Regions from separate parts of the Homo sapiens genome. Here region 2 is linked to region 1. A link means that fine-mapping ties the variant in region 1 to the expression of a gene that starts in the linked region. Tissue or cell type: nasal epithelium. Region 1 holds a variant in brackets; the other region holds the start of a gene. All regions are shown on one strand. Distances are between the middles of the regions.

The links. PIP is the estimated chance that this variant, and not a neighbour inherited with it, causes the effect. A credible set is the group of variants that fine-mapping cannot tell apart.
Region 2: it holds the start of C1QL2, and the variant in region 1 is the best candidate, but not a certain one, in a credible set for the expression of C1QL2 in nasal epithelium (TOPMed, PIP 0.62).

Annotation. Positions count from the first base shown.
Region 1 is chr2:119,087,427-119,095,605 of GRCh38, forward strand. No RefSeq gene overlaps it. Among named protein-coding and RNA genes, the nearest start is that of C1QL2, 67 kb to the right of the region's middle. The variant C/T (reference allele first, on the strand shown) is at 3,552.
Region 2 is chr2:119,155,246-119,163,424 of GRCh38, forward strand. C1QL2 (complement C1q like 2) reads right to left here and starts at 3,506. Exons shown (of 2, transcript NM_182528.4): 1 at 2,341-3,506; 2 at 998-1,736. The coding sequence starts at 3,024. The coding sequence ends at 1,557. RefSeq lists an enhancer at 1,874-2,684.

The DNA of each region.
Region 1 (8,179 bases):
TCTGAAAGGCTGGAGAAGGGATGTTCTTAGTTTGGGGATAGTAGGGTATCTAGGAAGATCCCTGTGGGTGCTGGGGTTTGGATGACCTCTGGCACACAGGACTGGCCTCACCCGTGACTCCACAATTTGCATGAGCTACTCTTGCATTAAGGGTGAGGGGCCAGCTCTGTTTGCCCCATTTCCAGATGCTTCTACAGGGAGTTAGTGCAAACCCCTCCAATGACTTTTCCCTTGTCCAAAAGTTCCAAGGGCATTCATTCATTTAAAAGAATTTAGTGGGCCCATAACATGTACCATCACTGTGACAGATGAACGAGATGGAGACACCCCACACCAGCCTCCCTGGGGTTTACAGTCAGGGAAGGCTGGCCCCAAGGACATGGATACATCAACAGCAAATCCTCAGAAGTGGGCCTGGCCCTCTGGAATTGGTCCCACTGCTTCTCTCAGACCTTTCCATGCTTATCCTTGCGTCCCAGGGGCCACCTACCAAAGACATGTGATTTGATAAGAACTGCACAGGCTGCGCATTGCTGACTTCTTTTGCCGCTCGCTGGGCTGTGTGCTTGTTAGAAATGCTGAGAGATTATTAGCATTTACAGCAAGAATACATCTCTAATTGTAAAATTCAGGCACTGAGCTGAGAGAGTTCTTTGGAGACAGATCTGTTTTGGGGCACGACCTGAAGACTTCTAGAGATGGATGCATGGGTGGATGGAGGGACAGAGGGACAGATGGATGGATGCATGGATGGATGGATGGATGGATGGATGCATGGATGGATGGATGGATGGTAGATAAATCACAGGTAGGTAGTTGGATAGATGGCAAAGAAAGTATAGGAAGATCTATGAAGAGAGAACAATAGAAGTGGATAGTGTGGATAAATGGCAGCTAAATGATAGAAACACAATAGTTCAAAAATATTCCAGCAAGGCCGACCCACCCGTGATCTTCCAGCTCACTCTCTTCCACATCCCTTTGGCCACTTCTCCAGCTCGGTGCTCCCCTCCTGCCCTTTGGCAACTGTGCTACTCCACACATCTGAGTCCCAGAGGCCTTTCCTGACCTCACCTGGCTGGGTTGGATGAGATCTCCTCTGCAACAGACTGTGAACCCACCTCCATGCTAGCATTTACAATATTGCTGGCTACTACCTGTAGACCTGTCAGCCCCCTGTCTCCTAGACTGTGAGCCTTTTGAGGGTAGGGTTGTGATCTACTATCCCCACTGTATCCTGAGCACTTAGCTTGTCCAGTGTTGATGAAATGAACTCAGTACACTATGCATGTGCCCATGAGAATTCACAGGGGAGACAGACTACAAGGTGGGTTTCTGCCTGGGGTCTCCTCCTCAGTTCAGTTGCAGGGCCCCCCTGACAAATGCTCCCTCCCACAGTGGCCATTTCCGGCAGGCTCTGCGAAGCAGACTCACTGTGCTGGGTGAGACTCTGCCGAGTGCCTCACTGGGTGACTGTAGCAGGCCTAGATGATTGCACAGTGAGCCCCAGGTGCAGCATCCGCAGGGAGGCCGACACAATGAGACCTGCACACCCTTCTGCTGTTAGCACTAACAAAGACAAATCGGATGCAGTGCTGGAGTGCTTTGCCTGTTAAGTGTTAAGTAGCAGACTGATTGCTCTGAAGTTGACAAGTGACAAGGAGTAAGGAAGGCAGCAGGTGCTTCCGACTGCCCTCCTGGGGGTAGCAGGGAACGGGGCTCTATCTAGGCAAGAGGAGATCTCTGACTGAGGGACCCTCACATCCCAGAGCAGGGCGATTCCTGTCTCGATCAAGGCTGGCCCTTGGTCCAGGCCCTGTTTCCTTGGTCACCTTCTGCAAACTTTCCCCAAAGCCTCAATTTTCCCCACTGCCTCTCAAGGACTGTCACAATGGAAAGCCCCATCTGTAGAAAACTAAGACTTTTATTAGGGGGTTGAGAGTGCAGCGGCATTTTTTTTTCTTTTTTTTTTTTGTTTTGTTTTTGAGATGGAGTCTCACTCTGTCGCCTAGGCTGGAGTGCAGTGGCAGGATCTCGGCTCACTGCAAGCTCTGCCTCCCAGGTTCACGCCATTCTCCTGCCTCAGCCTCCCAGGTAGCTGGTACTACAGGCACCCGCCACCACGCCCGGCTAATTTTTTTGTATTTTTAGTAGAGACGGGGTTTCACCGTTTTAGCCAGGATGGTCTCGATCTCCTGAATTTGTGATCTGCCCACCTTGGCCTCCCAAGCAGCAGCATTCTTGATGGGAAATAGAACATGAATGAAATCTTACCGGAAGTGTATTATCCCTGAAACAGGTGTCAGTGGAGCTGGTTAAAGCAGAAAAGAGGTCAGAGCACCCCCTGTTGTGCCGTCCCACCACATCTCCCACAGTGGCCCTGCGTCTCCTATACAGAAACCTAGACTCTCAGCACACAGTCTGGGGAACACAAGGCCCACGCCATACATTTAGTCTTGTATCACATCAGCATGCTCTTCTGATCTGTGTCTCCTGTTCAGTTGGTCCATCTTTATGGCCATCACCTTCCCAATAAGGTTATGAGCCGTGGATCAGACCTTCCGGCTCTTTTGGGAGCACAGTGCCAGGCCCCAGCAGACACCATGTAAAAGCCGTCATTTGATTGATGGGGAGTTCAAGGGGCATACATGCACAGCTCTCTGTAGGCTAGGCAGAGGGGTGGCAGGCAGGCACTCCCCACCATGCTGTGCTCTTCCCTGAGTAAATTCAAATAAATGGATGCTGCCTGACAGACCAATGTGCTCACTAATTTATATCGATGAACAAGATGAGAACTAAGGGACTGCATGAAACTTGGCTCCTGAGCTCTATCCCAGGGAATCTCAAGCTGCATTTCGTGTGCACACATGCATGTCTGCATGCCTACATGCATGAGGTGGGGGGCCATGTGGGGACTACCCAGGGCAGCTCCAGAGAGAAAATGCCTTTGTTTAGATTGATTCTTCTCCCCCCCTAAAATGATAATGCGATCATCCATGTAAACACTGACCTTGGCCAATAGGGAAAAATCATAAGTGCTTCTCAAACTAGTAATCATTTGTTACTGTTAACATAATGCCCTCCAGGATCCTCATCATATCTATATGCTTCCCAAATCTTGTTTTCAAGCCCCATTCCTTCAGGAAGCCCCTTCAGACTACATCTGCCTTCCTTCACCTCCCTTCTTCCCTGTTAGTTTTCATCAATTCTCCTCTGACACTGCTCCTCCTGAATTGCTTCAGGAACACAGGTGCAGTTCCTGTGCTGGGACAGAGGGTCTCTGAGGTTTGGCCCTGACCCAGCTTTCTCTCTGTACATCCCACACAGGCTGGCTGAAAACTGAGCAGGCAGGAGACGTGGCCAGACCAATGGATTGTTCCTGAGGGATTGTTTTTCTAGGTTCTTCCCCTCAAAGCTCAGTGGAACGGCAGTATCCTCTTGTGGAGGCACAGTGGCCGGTCCAGGATGAGTGAATGAGGGAAGGAAGACAAAAGGAAAGGGCAGCAGCTGAGGTTTGTCCTTCCTGGTCCACCTCCTCACCCTTTCCCAAC[C/T]AGAAAGTATATAACCGTTCTCTCCTCTGGAGACATCGCTGTGCCCAGTCCAGAAGCGACGGAGACCCAAGGAACGTTGTGGCAGAAGGAGATCATCTCAAGTGCAGTGCCCTTCCGTCCTGTTCTGAAAGCCTCCCAGCAATAACTAACTAGGTGGGGCTTCTCCTCTGTGCCTTCACAGCCCCCCGGGCCTTCCTTTGTCCTAGCAGGCATCACACGGGAGTCTACTTGCTGATCCCTCTGCCGCTGTTTCAGACTGTGAGCTGCTCAGGGGCCTTGCTGAAAGTTGATTGGATATGGATGAAGGGGTAGGTGGATGGGTGAGTGGGTGAGAGGTGGGTGGAATGATGGGTAGCAGATTTTGCTCAAAGGTCCTCAGAGTCTCAAAATTCAAATGAATTATTTAAGAGCATAGGCTTAGGAGAAAGGAAAGGAAAGGAGAGGAGAGGGGAGGGGAGGGGAATAATCCCTTTAAGTCCTATGCTTTAGTGAAGTGGCTATCAAAATATTTTTCATTTTTATTGGAGTGTTTGTGTTTTTACTGTTGATGTATAAGAATTATTTCCATATTCTAGATTCAAGACATGTGTCAGGTATATAGATTGTTCTCCCAGCCTGTAATGTGTTCTACATCTTCTTAATAGTGTCTTTTGCTCAGCAGAAATTATTAATTTTGATGAAATCTAATGTATCAACTTTTTCTTCTATGGATAGAGCTTCTTGTGTCCTCTCTAAGAAATCTCTGCCTACCTCCAGGTGTCAAAAATTTTTCAAAAATGTTTTTTTTGCTTAGAAACTTTTTACTTAGCTTTTGTTTTGGTCTGTGATCCACCTCAACTTACTTTTTGTGTTATGTGTGAAGTAGAGAGGGTCAGGGATTTTTTTCTATATTTTATATTTGTCCCTCAACCCTAGCACTTTTTGCCCAAAAGACTTTCTTTTCCACCCACTGATTTGCGTCAGTGCCTTTCTAGAAAATCAACTGGTCATATATACATGGGTCTGATTCTCTTTTCTTTCATTGATTTTCCTGGTCTTAGTATAGCCCAATGCCAAGAGTATATTGTCTCAATAATATAGTTTTACAGTAAGTCTTGAGATCAATTAATATAAGCCTTCCAGTTTTTTTTTCAAGATTATTTTCACTATAGTTGGTTCTTTACATTTCCTTTTAAATTTTTGAATCAATCTGTCAACTTCTACAAGAAAATTTTCTGACAATTTGATTGGATAGCTTTGAATTTATACATCAGTTTGAGGAGAACTGACATCTTAATAACGTTGATTCTTCTGATCCATGAATACCAGAATATCTTTTTATTTACTTTATTTTTAAATTGTATTTATTAAATTTTTTTTGAGACGAAGTCTCACTCTGTCACACAGGCGGGAGCACAGTGGCATGATCTCGGCTCACTGCAACCTCTGCTTCCCAGGTTCAAGCAATTCTCCTGCCTCAGCCTCCAGAGTAGCTGGGATTACAGGTGGACACCATCATGCCCAGCTAATTTTTGTATTTTTAGTAGAAACGGGGTTTCACCATGTTGGCCAGGCTGGCCTCGAACTCCTGACCTGAAGTGATCCTCCTGCCTTGGCCTCCCAAAGTGCTGGGATTACAGGCATAAGCCACTGCGCCTAGCCTTTTTATTTACTTTAGATCTTCTTTAATTTTTCATGATATTTTATAGTATTTAGTATGCAGGCTCACGTGTATTTTGTTAAATTTATTCCTAATATTTTATGCTATTTTAAATGGTACTTTTTCAAAGTTCAATTTCAAATTTTTCCTAGACATAGTCAATAGACAAAAAAACTTTTTATGTATATTGACTTTATATCTTGAAAAGTGTATTAAAATTGCTTATTAGTTCTCATAGGGTTTTTTTGGTAAACTCATGATTTTCTGCGTAGACAATCATGTTGTCTACTAATAAAGGCAGATTTACTTCTTCCTTTTCAATCACTCTACTTTTTAATTCAATTTCTTGCCTTATTGCACTGGCTATGACCTTCAGTAAAATACTGAATATATATGATCAGAGTGGGCATACTTTACTTGTTCCCAGTTTTGGTGTGAATATATACAGTTTGTCTCCATTGAGAATGGTATTAGCTGCAGGATTTTTGAGAAACTCCTCATCAGATGAGGAAGTTCCATTCTATTCCTAGTTTATTGAAAAGTTTTAACCTGAATGGATGTTGAATTTCATCAAATATTTGTTTACATCTATGGAAATAGTTCTTTTTTTTCTCTTTATCCTGTTAGTATAATTATCGTGATGGATTTTTGAATGCTAAATGATTTTTGTATTCTTGTGTTTCCATTCTACTTGCTCATGGTATTACTAACTTTTTGCATATTGGTAAATTCAACTTGCTAAAATTTTCTTGAGGATTTTTGCATATAAGTTCATGTGTAATGCTGATTTCTTCTAATATCTTTGTCTGGTTTTGCTAATACAGGGTAATGCTGACCTCATACAATGAATTAAGCAGGGAAGACTATTCCTCTATTTTCTGAAAAAGTTTGTGTAAGATTGGTACTGTTTCTTAGGTGTTTGATTGAACTGGCCTATGAATTTAACTAGGCCTGGTGTTTGATTGAACTGGCCTATGAATTTAACTAGGCCTGGAGTTTTCTTCTGGGGAAGGCCTTTGAAGACAAATTCAATTTATTTCATAGATATAGGGCTATTCAGAAATACTGTTCCATCTTGTGCCAATTTTTTGGAATTTATTTGCAATAGGAAAAATATTTTTGTAAAATTTTATAATACTTACTTCACAGTCAGTATTAAGGTCTACCTTGGTCAATGTTCTCTATACACATGAGAAGAATGTGTGCTCTGCCGTTGTTGGAGGAAGTGCTCTATAAATGTCAATTAGGGCAAGTTGGTAGCTAGCGTTGTTCAAGTCTTCTATATCATGGCTGATTTCTTTTGTCTAATTGTTCTATCAATCACTAAGGAGGCTGTTAAAATTTTCTAATATGATTGTTGCTTTAAATATTTCTCCTTTTATTTCCATCAGTTTGTGCTTTATATATGTTGAAGCTCTCTTATTAGATGCAAACACAGTAATTGACTGCTGAATTAGCCTTTTAAAAAATTTTTTGAAAACTCTTTATCTCTGTCTAACATTCCTTAACAGTTCTTATCCTGTAATTTATTTTGATATTAAAATAGCCACACACCAGCTTTATTATGTTTACCATTTGTGTTAGATATTTTTGCATTGTTTTGCTTTCAACACATCTGTGTCTTTATACTTAAAGATGCGTTTTTAAATATAAAAGGGTATGCTGGGCCCAGTGGCTTATGCCTGTAATCCCAACATTTTGGGAGGCTGAGAAGGGAGAATCATTTGAGACATAGAGTTCGAGACCAGCCTGGGCAATATAGTGAGACCCCTTCTCTACAAAAAATATTTTCTTATTTAAAAAAAGAAAATGTAGAAGTTTTTGTAGATGTAATATAGTTGGTTTTATTTATTTTTTCTGGTCTAAAAATCTCTGCCTTTTTCTTGCAGGTAAAACTATTTATATGTAATGCCATTGCTGATACAGTTGGGTTTAAGTCTACCATCTCCCTATTTGTTTTCTTTGCTTTAGCTTTATTTTTGGTTTCTCTACTATTTTTCTGCCTTCTTTTATGTTAGTCAAATATTTTTTAGAATTGTATTTTATTTTTCATGCTAGCTCTTTAGCTATTCCTCTCTACATTTTTTTAGTAGTTTCTGTAGATTACAATGTACATCTTTAAGTCATCACAGTCTACTGAGCACCACTTCAGGCAAAATGTATAAATCTTAAAGATATATAATACACTCCCTATCCTTTGTTCCACTATTGTCATGTAAATCCCACAATACAATGTTAATCCCACAATACAATGTTATTATTTTTGCTTTGAAATTGCTTAAATAAATTTTTTAAAATGAAACAATAAGCATTTATATTCACTCACATTTGCCATTTCCAATGTTTGGTTACTTTCCATAGACCTTAGTTTTTATTTGATACTATTTTCCTTTAACCTAAATTTAATATTTCACTTAAAGAATGTTTTTTGGTAATGAACTATCTTGGCTTTTATTTATTTCATTTTTATTTTTGAAGAATATTTTTCTTCAATATAAAAACCCACACCCAAAGACACTACAAGAAAGCTACACACCAATATCCCTAGTTAACACTGATGCAAAAATCTCAGCAAAATTCTAGGAAAACAAATTCAGCAGCAGTGTATTGAAAGGATTATATACCATGACCAGTGGAATTTATTCCTGGAATGCAAGGATGATTCGATACATAAAAATCAATCAATGCAATACATTACATGAACAGAATGAAGAAAAAGAAAACACATGATTATTTTAATTGCTGTAGAAAAAGCATTTGACAAAATTCAATATCATTTCATGATTTGAAAAAAAACAAAAAAAAACCCACTATCCTGGATCAGTGGCTCACACCGGTAATACCAACACTTTGGGAGGCCAAGGCGAGTGGATCATTTGAGCCTGAGAGTTTGAGACCAGCCTGGGCAACATGGCAAAATTTATCTCTACCAAAAATAAAAAGAAAAGAAAGAAAGAAATAGCAATACATGGTAGCATGTGCCTTTAGT
Region 2 (8,179 bases), 68 kb after region 1:
TCTCCAGCTTTACACAGATACACACACCCTGGGGTTGCCTTTTTGTGTATACTCACACATTTCTTTTCACACAACCCGTAAAAGTGACCTCAGTAAGCACTAACAGGTTGCTGGGAGCTGACTGGTTATTTTGTACATAACTTTGTTGTAACTCAGTGATCTGACAACAAAAAAAAAGTAAAAAGAAAAAAATCAAAACCATGCGGGGTGTTTTCCTAACTTGTGTGTGTGTAGAATGCTGATGGGACACCAAACACACACACTCAGGTTCAGAGCAGGCACCCCAAATCGCATGCATAAGGGAAGGGAAGCCCGCAGGAAAGAGGCGTCCCTCCCCAAGGAATGGTGTCCACCTCAACACACAGCCCTGAGGAAGTTCAGCAAGCTGGATGATCCGCGGAATTGCCTCAGTTTACCAGCTCTCCGGAGAGCGGTGGCCCTGGCGGCTGTGAGTAAACAGGCCTGTGCTTAGTGAACCATCCGCTCGAGCGGGTGTGTGTCTGCTAGGGACTTCTGCACTTCCTTTTAGGAGCCAAACATCCTACAGATCCCTCCCCGGCAAGTGTCACTCACGCCTCCCATTTCCCATAGATGCCTTCTCTTCCCCTTCCTTCCCCAGAAGCCCCTCCCCTCTGACCTCCACCCACAACTCCGGGAGGACTAAGTTGCCCAAGTTGCCCAAGACTGGAGACCCAATCATTCCTCTCCTGCTTTCCTCTAACTCTCCCTGATGCCTTTCCCCGCCTCCTCCCCTCCTCCCAACCCCACCTCCGGCCTCTCCAGCTCAGGGCTGCAGCCTGGGGAGAGCTTCTGGGAAGGGTGGGATGCAGCTCCCATTTACCCCATGTCTTTTCGGCAACTTCTGGTGGCAGGGACATAGCAGCGGCTGGGGAGCAGGTCATAGATGGGCCTATCCTGGGCCCAGGTAAGGTCTTTATGCCAAGGCGGACATCTGGAGCCCTGGTCCAGGATGTGTCGACATACAGACAACAGAACGCATAGTCTAAAAACATAATTTAATGCATCGCGGTGAGTCTGAGTCAGGAGGGAATGCGGTGTGGAGAGGTGAATTTTCTGTTTGCTGGAATTCTGCTGTGGGTGGGGTTTTGGCTGATGGACAGGGAAATCTGCACAAGTATTTCGGGTCACAAAGAAGGACGCCCCAGGAAGCCCGCGCTCCCTCTGGCCTACCTCCCTGGCCAGGGCCCGGAGCCCTCCGCTTCTAGGCACTGGGAGGAGGCTGTCTGAGGAGGGCAGGCTCCCGGCCCTGCCTGTCCAGTCTAATCAGGTTTGCAAAGTCTGTGCCGCCGCCTCAAGGGCTCGGGCGTCCCTTCCTCCCTTGCCGGGATGGGGATGGAGACCAGGAGCACAGCCCTGAGCGTGGTGGGTCGCAGACGCACTGAGGCCAGGAGCGGGGCAGGGAGGACGCAGGGATTTGTCTTTTCCAAAGGAGATGTCAGGAAGTGTTATGAATCGAGAGTGGCCTTTGCCAAGGAGCCGCGCCCGGGCGGAGACCGGGCGGCCTGCAGCCACCCCGCCTCGCACCCCCCGCGCCCCTAATCCGGGTACAGAAGAAAGCCCGAGAACGTGCTGTACTTGTTATTATTGCCTCCGTGAGCCTTCCCGCCATCCAGCTTCACATACACTTCGTCCCCTGAATCCAAGTGCAGCACCACGCTGTTACTGGCGTAGTCGTAGTTCTGGTCGGCGTCCTGTGCAATGGCGCTGGCCCGGACCTGGGGACAAGCGGTGGGAGCAGGTGAGCCGGGGCACCTCTTCCCGCGCCTTTGCTCAGCCCACACCAGGCGCGCCACTCACGGGCCTCCCGCCTGCTGCTTCAGGGTCCACACTCCCACCCCAGCTCCATGTTCTCTCTCCAACTTAGTCAACTCCTTCCAGGTCCCCCCTCCTCCTCGCGCCGACGAGTCTGGGAAATAGGGAGAGGGGAAGCTTCATGAACACTGACCCAGAGTGGAAGGGTGGGAGCCAGGGGCCAGGGCCAAGAGGAAAGGAGGCTGCAGGGCAAGGGGGCGACCTGGAGAGAACTAAAGAACTGAGGTTTCCGAGAAGCCCACGGAGAGGCAGGCAGGGACGCAAGTGGCCAAGGAGTGTAGTTTAGGTATGGGGGTCTCTGGGCTCTCAAGGCCCAACATTTGGCTCTACGTCCCGGTGAGCGCGGCCTCGGCGCATCGGGAAGCGGAGATACTGTGGCACCGAGGCGCGTTCATTCCCGGGGCTCGCAGGGTAGCCCGCGGGTGGAGAGAAAGGAGGCTGGTTCCCTGGGAGGTTCAGGGCGCGGGCGAGGGTTTACGGGGGCCGGTGAGTGTAGGGGTCACTGACCTGCCCGTTCTTGCAGAGGTCCGCCCACATGCTGGTGCCGTCGCCGCCGCGCATGAGGATGTGGTAGGTGAAGAAGTAGATGCCGCGTACCTGGCAGCTGAACTTGCCCGTGGTGGGGTCATAGTGATTGCCGAGGTTGGTGACCACGTCATCGAACTTCAGCACCTCATAGCCTTCGTGGGGGCTCTTGAGACCCACATAGAAGGCGATCTTGGGGCCGCTGAAGGTGGCGCTCAGCGCACTGGTCACTTCACCCTCGGAATCGCCACCTACCCCGGCCCCGCCGCCCACCACCCCGACGCCGCTGGCCGTGCCCGCCGTCAGTTGCAGCCCTGGCAGCCCGGGCCGCCCCGAGTCGCCCTTCTCTCCCGGAGGGCCCCTGGGTCCAGGCGGGCCCGGCTCTCCAGGGGGCCCCCGCGGCCCTGGCTTGCCCGGTCGCCCCGGGTCGCCCTTGGGTCCCTGGATGAAAGGAGGAGGAGGGTTGGCGCTGAGGTCCTGCATGACTTCCAGGGCGGCGGTGCTGGGTCCGGGTGGCTGCGCCTTTGCACCCGGGGGCTCCCCGCCGGGCGCGGCAGTGTAAGGGTCGCAGATCATGCGGCAGGTGCCCATCATCTCATAGTGCGCGGCGCCTCGGGGCGCCGCCTGCAGCAGCAGCGGCACGGCGATGAGCAGCCCGAGCGCCATGGCCAAGAGTACGCCGACGGCCGCCAGGCAGGCACGCCGCCGCCGCTGCCACAGCCGGGAGGCGACCGCCACCAGCTCCTCCTTGCCGCCCGGGGAGGTAATGGTGGGGCGGCGCGGGCGGCCCCGCTCCCCGCGCTCGGGGACCGGCTCCGCGGGTCCTGGCCGCGCCCCCGACGTGGCGACCCCCAGCCCCGGCTACCCAACTACTTCAGCGAGAGGCGCCGGGACCTCTGAGCCTGGGCCCACCGCGCTGGGGCTGGTCGGGAGAGCCGCGGACGCCCGCGCGCATGACGTGGGGCACACAAGACGAATCCGGCGCCCCGAGGGTCCGGCGCCGGCCAGGGAGTGCTTGCGCTGGCCGGGGAGTCTGCTTGCGGCGTCCGGCGCTGGCTCCGCGGCGCTGCCTCCCGCCAGGCTCCGCTCCGCTGGGTTTAGTGGGGCTCCTAGCGCAGTGAGGGCGCCCCGGCTCCGCGGCGCGCTCTGCTGTGCTCTCTCGCTGTTCGCTGGCTCCCGCGCGGAGGGGGGACCCCGCTACCCTGACGTAAGGAGTCCGGGGCTGAGCGGCGGAGGCGGCGAAGCAGCGCGCGCTGCCATCACTCGGGAGACGGAGCCCTCATGTCATCAGCCTCCTATCTGGCGGCGTCCTCGGCAGAGGCGGTGAAGGCGCGGTTCCCCCTGGCGGCTCCCAGGAGCCACAAGTGGGCGCAGCGGGCGCGGTCCCAAGCCGGGGCACATCGGACACACCCACCCGCGGCCACACTCACGCGCCCCCCACCGATAACACACACAGACACCCACGCACGCAGTGGCGGGGCACGCACAGCCACCCCCACATGGCCACGAAAGCAGCTGGAATCCAGGTGTCAGCAGGGCTCCTCTGGGGTCACCTAATCCATCCCCTGGCCTGCAAAGAGGATCAAACCTCAACCCACCGAGTCCAGGAGAGTCCCGTGAGGTCCAGCGGGAAGGAGTTTCTGAAAGACCTCCTGAGTTATTTCTTCAGAATTGAATAGATCTCGCTTCTGGAAGATCTTTCGCAAACCTAGACTAAGGACTCCAGACTCTTAAACAGGCTCCCGTAGAGCACCCCACTAACCTCTGAGGTGACTCTAAAAAGCCCAAGGCTCCCAATACAAGAATATTTGCGGCCGGGCGCAGTGGCTCACGCCTGTGATCCCAACACTTTGGGAGGCCGAAGCGGGCAGATCACCTGAGGTTGGGAGTTTGAGACCAGCCTGACCAACATGATGAAACCCCGTCTGTACTAAAAACACAAAATTAACTGGGCATGGTGGTGCATGCCCGTAATCCCAGCTACGCGGAAGGCTGAGGCAGGAGAGTCGCTTGAACCAGAGAGGCAGAGGTTGCGGTGAGGCGGGATCGTGCCATTGCACTCCAGCCTGGGCAACAAAAGCAAAAGTCCATCTCAAAAAAAAAAAAAAAAAAAAGGAATATTCGCCTCAGACCTTTTCTTCCACCAGAAAATGGCTGGCCCTTGTCCTCTGCGTGAAGCTGGTGTAGAAACCAAATGCTTGATGCCGGCACTTGGCAGTGATCATGGTGCACTCAGCTTCTACTCCAAGCCCGGCCACTGCCAGGCAGATGCATGGGCACATTCCCTTGGACATCCCCAGCTTCCTCCTCCTGAGATGGGTTTAGTTATTTTAGAAAATAGTCCAAATAGTCCAAAGCCATTCTGAGCCAGTCTTGAATAAACCATGGCCTCAGATGAGAGCAGAATAGTCTATCTCCAATGTAGCATGTGAGGCTAAGGAAGGATGAGAGGCCCGCCGGTGTGGGAGAGACTTCCAGCGGAGAAATCAAAGCCCCAGCTTCTGCTCTTGCCCTGAGTAGCTGTGTGATTTTGCCAGGTGGTTCCTGTCCCTGAGACTCAGTTTCCTTAAAAGGCCGCCTCCTGCCCTAGCACCCCCAACATGGGAATCACACCAGGCCTGTCCTGGGGGGAGAATCTAAGGGCTGGTGTCAGTGTTTGGTGTAGCATCAGCATCTCTGGAACAACAGTGCACCCACCTAAGGCTATTGCTTTGAAGCTAACTCTCATTTGTCCTGCACTAGGTTCTTACGGGTTAATTAAAATCTATTTTTGTCCTCTGATCACCCTGGGTCATTTCCCCACTCCCAACCTCGTTGCTCTAGCCTGTTCTCTCCACATATATTTGTGGAAAGGATGACTGAGCCTAGCCGGAAGCCAACTTTACCAAGGAGAGAAGGAGCACATTTATTGGCACCTACTACGTATGCATCAGGCACTTTGCACGTGCTCCTTCATTCATTCCTCATGTTACTGTGGATTAGTGATCATTTTCCCACCGCACCAATGAGGAAAAAAAAAAGGTTTTGCAAGTGTAGGGTGTTTGCCAAGTGCATTTTACCCACATGACAGAGCCAGGATCCTCCCGGCACCCAGATCAGGGGCTATCTGAACCTGTCAGTGAACACAGCTTCAACAGCTACTTCTTGGCCACAGTCTTCACTGGTTTCCTCAGACTTGGGAGTCTTTCTCCACTCTCTGCCTCAGAGTCATCCCAAGAGCACGTGATTTCAGGAGCCACATGGCCTACTTCCAATCCTGGGTCTGAGACTTCCTGTCTGTGTGACCTTGAGCAAGTTGCTTCATCTCTCTGAGCTCGGATCTCCATGTGTAGAATGGGAATGGAAAAAGAACCTACCTCTAAGTTATTGAGAAGACTGAACGAGCCAATTAATGTAAAGGCTTTAGAACAATAGCTAGCTCAGTAGAAGCTTAGCTATTTTTATTAGCTATTGATGCTTTCAACCTCCCCTGCCATGGTTATGACCACTAGGATGCGACATGAAGGCAATATGCAGGGTGGCATGGGGAGGGTTAGGGTTTTAAAAAAAGAGAAGCTCAAAGATAATTCACATCCTTTGTCCTTCTCCAGAGCGCAGAAGGGGGATGTCCCATGCCTCCCACATTCCCCAAGCCTGCCCTGCTCTGTCTTTTTGTCTTTCAAAACTACCCAGAGTGTTTGTTCCCAGTCACCAGTTCCACCTGGACAAACATTTTCCAGGCAGACACTCACTCCGTTTGAATTCCCCAGCCTTTCAGACTGCTGGAGACTGCCAAGTCCCAGTGATTTTGTCCTTGCAGTATCTGGGCAAAGATGAAGCAAGGAGGGTCAGATGTTTGAGACCCAGGCTTTCACCTTGGCAGACCACAAGCAAAGCTACCTTCCCTGGGGATCAGCATTCCTGGGAGCGCCTCTCAAGACCAGCCCTCCACCAGGAGGCAGGGGCAGCAGGCTCCAGGGCAGGCAGAGCCCAGGCAGCCTCCACATAGCAGCCAAATAAGTCAAGAGGTGTCTTTCCCCTTGCTTCTCCTTCCTCCCACCCATCATGGCAGGGCCAGAAGGCATGGCCTGCTGGAGTGTTGAACATACCTATTTTTTTTTCTTTTTTTTTTTTTTTTTTTTGAGACAGAGTCTCACTCTGTCGCCCAGGCTGCAGTGCAATGGTACAATCTTGGGTTACTGCAACCTCTCCCTCCCAGGTTCAAGCAATTCTCCTGCCTCAGCTTCCTAAGTAGCTGGGATTACAGGTGCCCGCCACCATGCCCGGTTAATTTTTGTATTTTTAGTAGAGGTGGGGTTTTGGCATGTTGGCCAGGCTGGTCTCGAACTCCTGGCCTCAAGCAATCCACCTGCCTCAGCCTCCCAAATTGCTGAGATTACAGGCGTGAGCTACTGCACCCAGCTGACATACCTGTTTATCCACCTGGCTTCTGCTCCTCCTGAGCGATCCATATCATTGGTGACTATCTTCTCTTCAATACTAATTATGACCTATATTAACATATTGCCTTCCATTTAGACTGTGGTTTTTACATTTCGAGACCCACTCAAATCTGTTCTAAATTGCCTTTAGTAATCCAGCAGGCATTCCTTCTGCCAACATACACTGACAACCTACTATGTGCCAACCAGTGCTCTCTATCTTATCCTTTCATAGAGCCCTGTGCTCTGTGACACATAGTTTGATGCTTGGTTCCACACTGTCATGTCCGGTTCTTTAGTGGCCTCCACCAGCAGTGGGCCCCATGCTTCATCTACCTGCACCATGGCCTGTCTCCTGCATCTCATCTGGACTCCTCTCTAATTATCCTTTCAGTCTCAGCTAAGTGTCACTTCCTTGTCTGAAGTCTTCCGTGACCCTTCTCTAAGCTGAGTTGATAGTTCCTACCCATGTACGCTTTAGAGTACGTTGAATGTACCCTGCCATCCTATGTCTTACCATCATGCATTTCTTTATTAGTTAGCCTCCCCCACCTGGCTATGGGCTCCAGTAGGGCAGGAATCGTATCATTCATTCATCTTCATCTTTTGTGTATGTCATTCATTTGCTCAATATGTGTTTATTGACCCCTGTCATATGCCAGCCATCATGCCACGTGCTGAGTACACAGTGGTACACAACAGTCTTGGTTCCTTCTACTCTAGCTGTTCTACAAGACACCCTCAGCTCCCCCATTTCTTTCTACCCGTAGCACATGAGTTTGTACCTGAACAGCTGCAGCATGGGTGTTTATTGACATGCTGTCTCTAAATCAGACCTGTGTCCCAATTAGAGTGTAAGCTCTTTAGAGACATCATGTGGAATACATTGGCCAATCTTCTGCCTGCATCCCCAAAGGGAAGGACAGCAGGAGATGTGTCAGGGAGATAGACAGGAGGGAGATCACCCAAGGCCTTGGAGCCCATGTTGAAAGAGGTGAATTGTCTCCTGTGTGTAATTGAGAACTGCTGAAGGAGTTTAAGCAGGGAAGTGATGTGATCCATCTATGTTTTGCAAAGACCACGCTGGCTGCTGTGTGGTGAATGGATGTGGTGGTGGAGTGGGGGTGGGTTTTGGAAATGAAACCAGTTTGAAGGCTATTGCATGATCTAAGCAAAAGATAACGATGGCTTGGTCTGAGATAGTAGAAGAGAAGTAGGTGAATTCCAGGTATATTTTGAACTTGGGGCCCATGGGTCTTGCTGATGGATTTGAGATAGAAGTTAAGGAAGGAGAAGGAAAAGAAAAAAAAAATCAAGATTAACTTCTAAGATTTGGGTCGAACAACTGGGTGAGTGAGCATGAGAAGGTGGGGATATTTGGGGAAGAGCAATATGTTGTC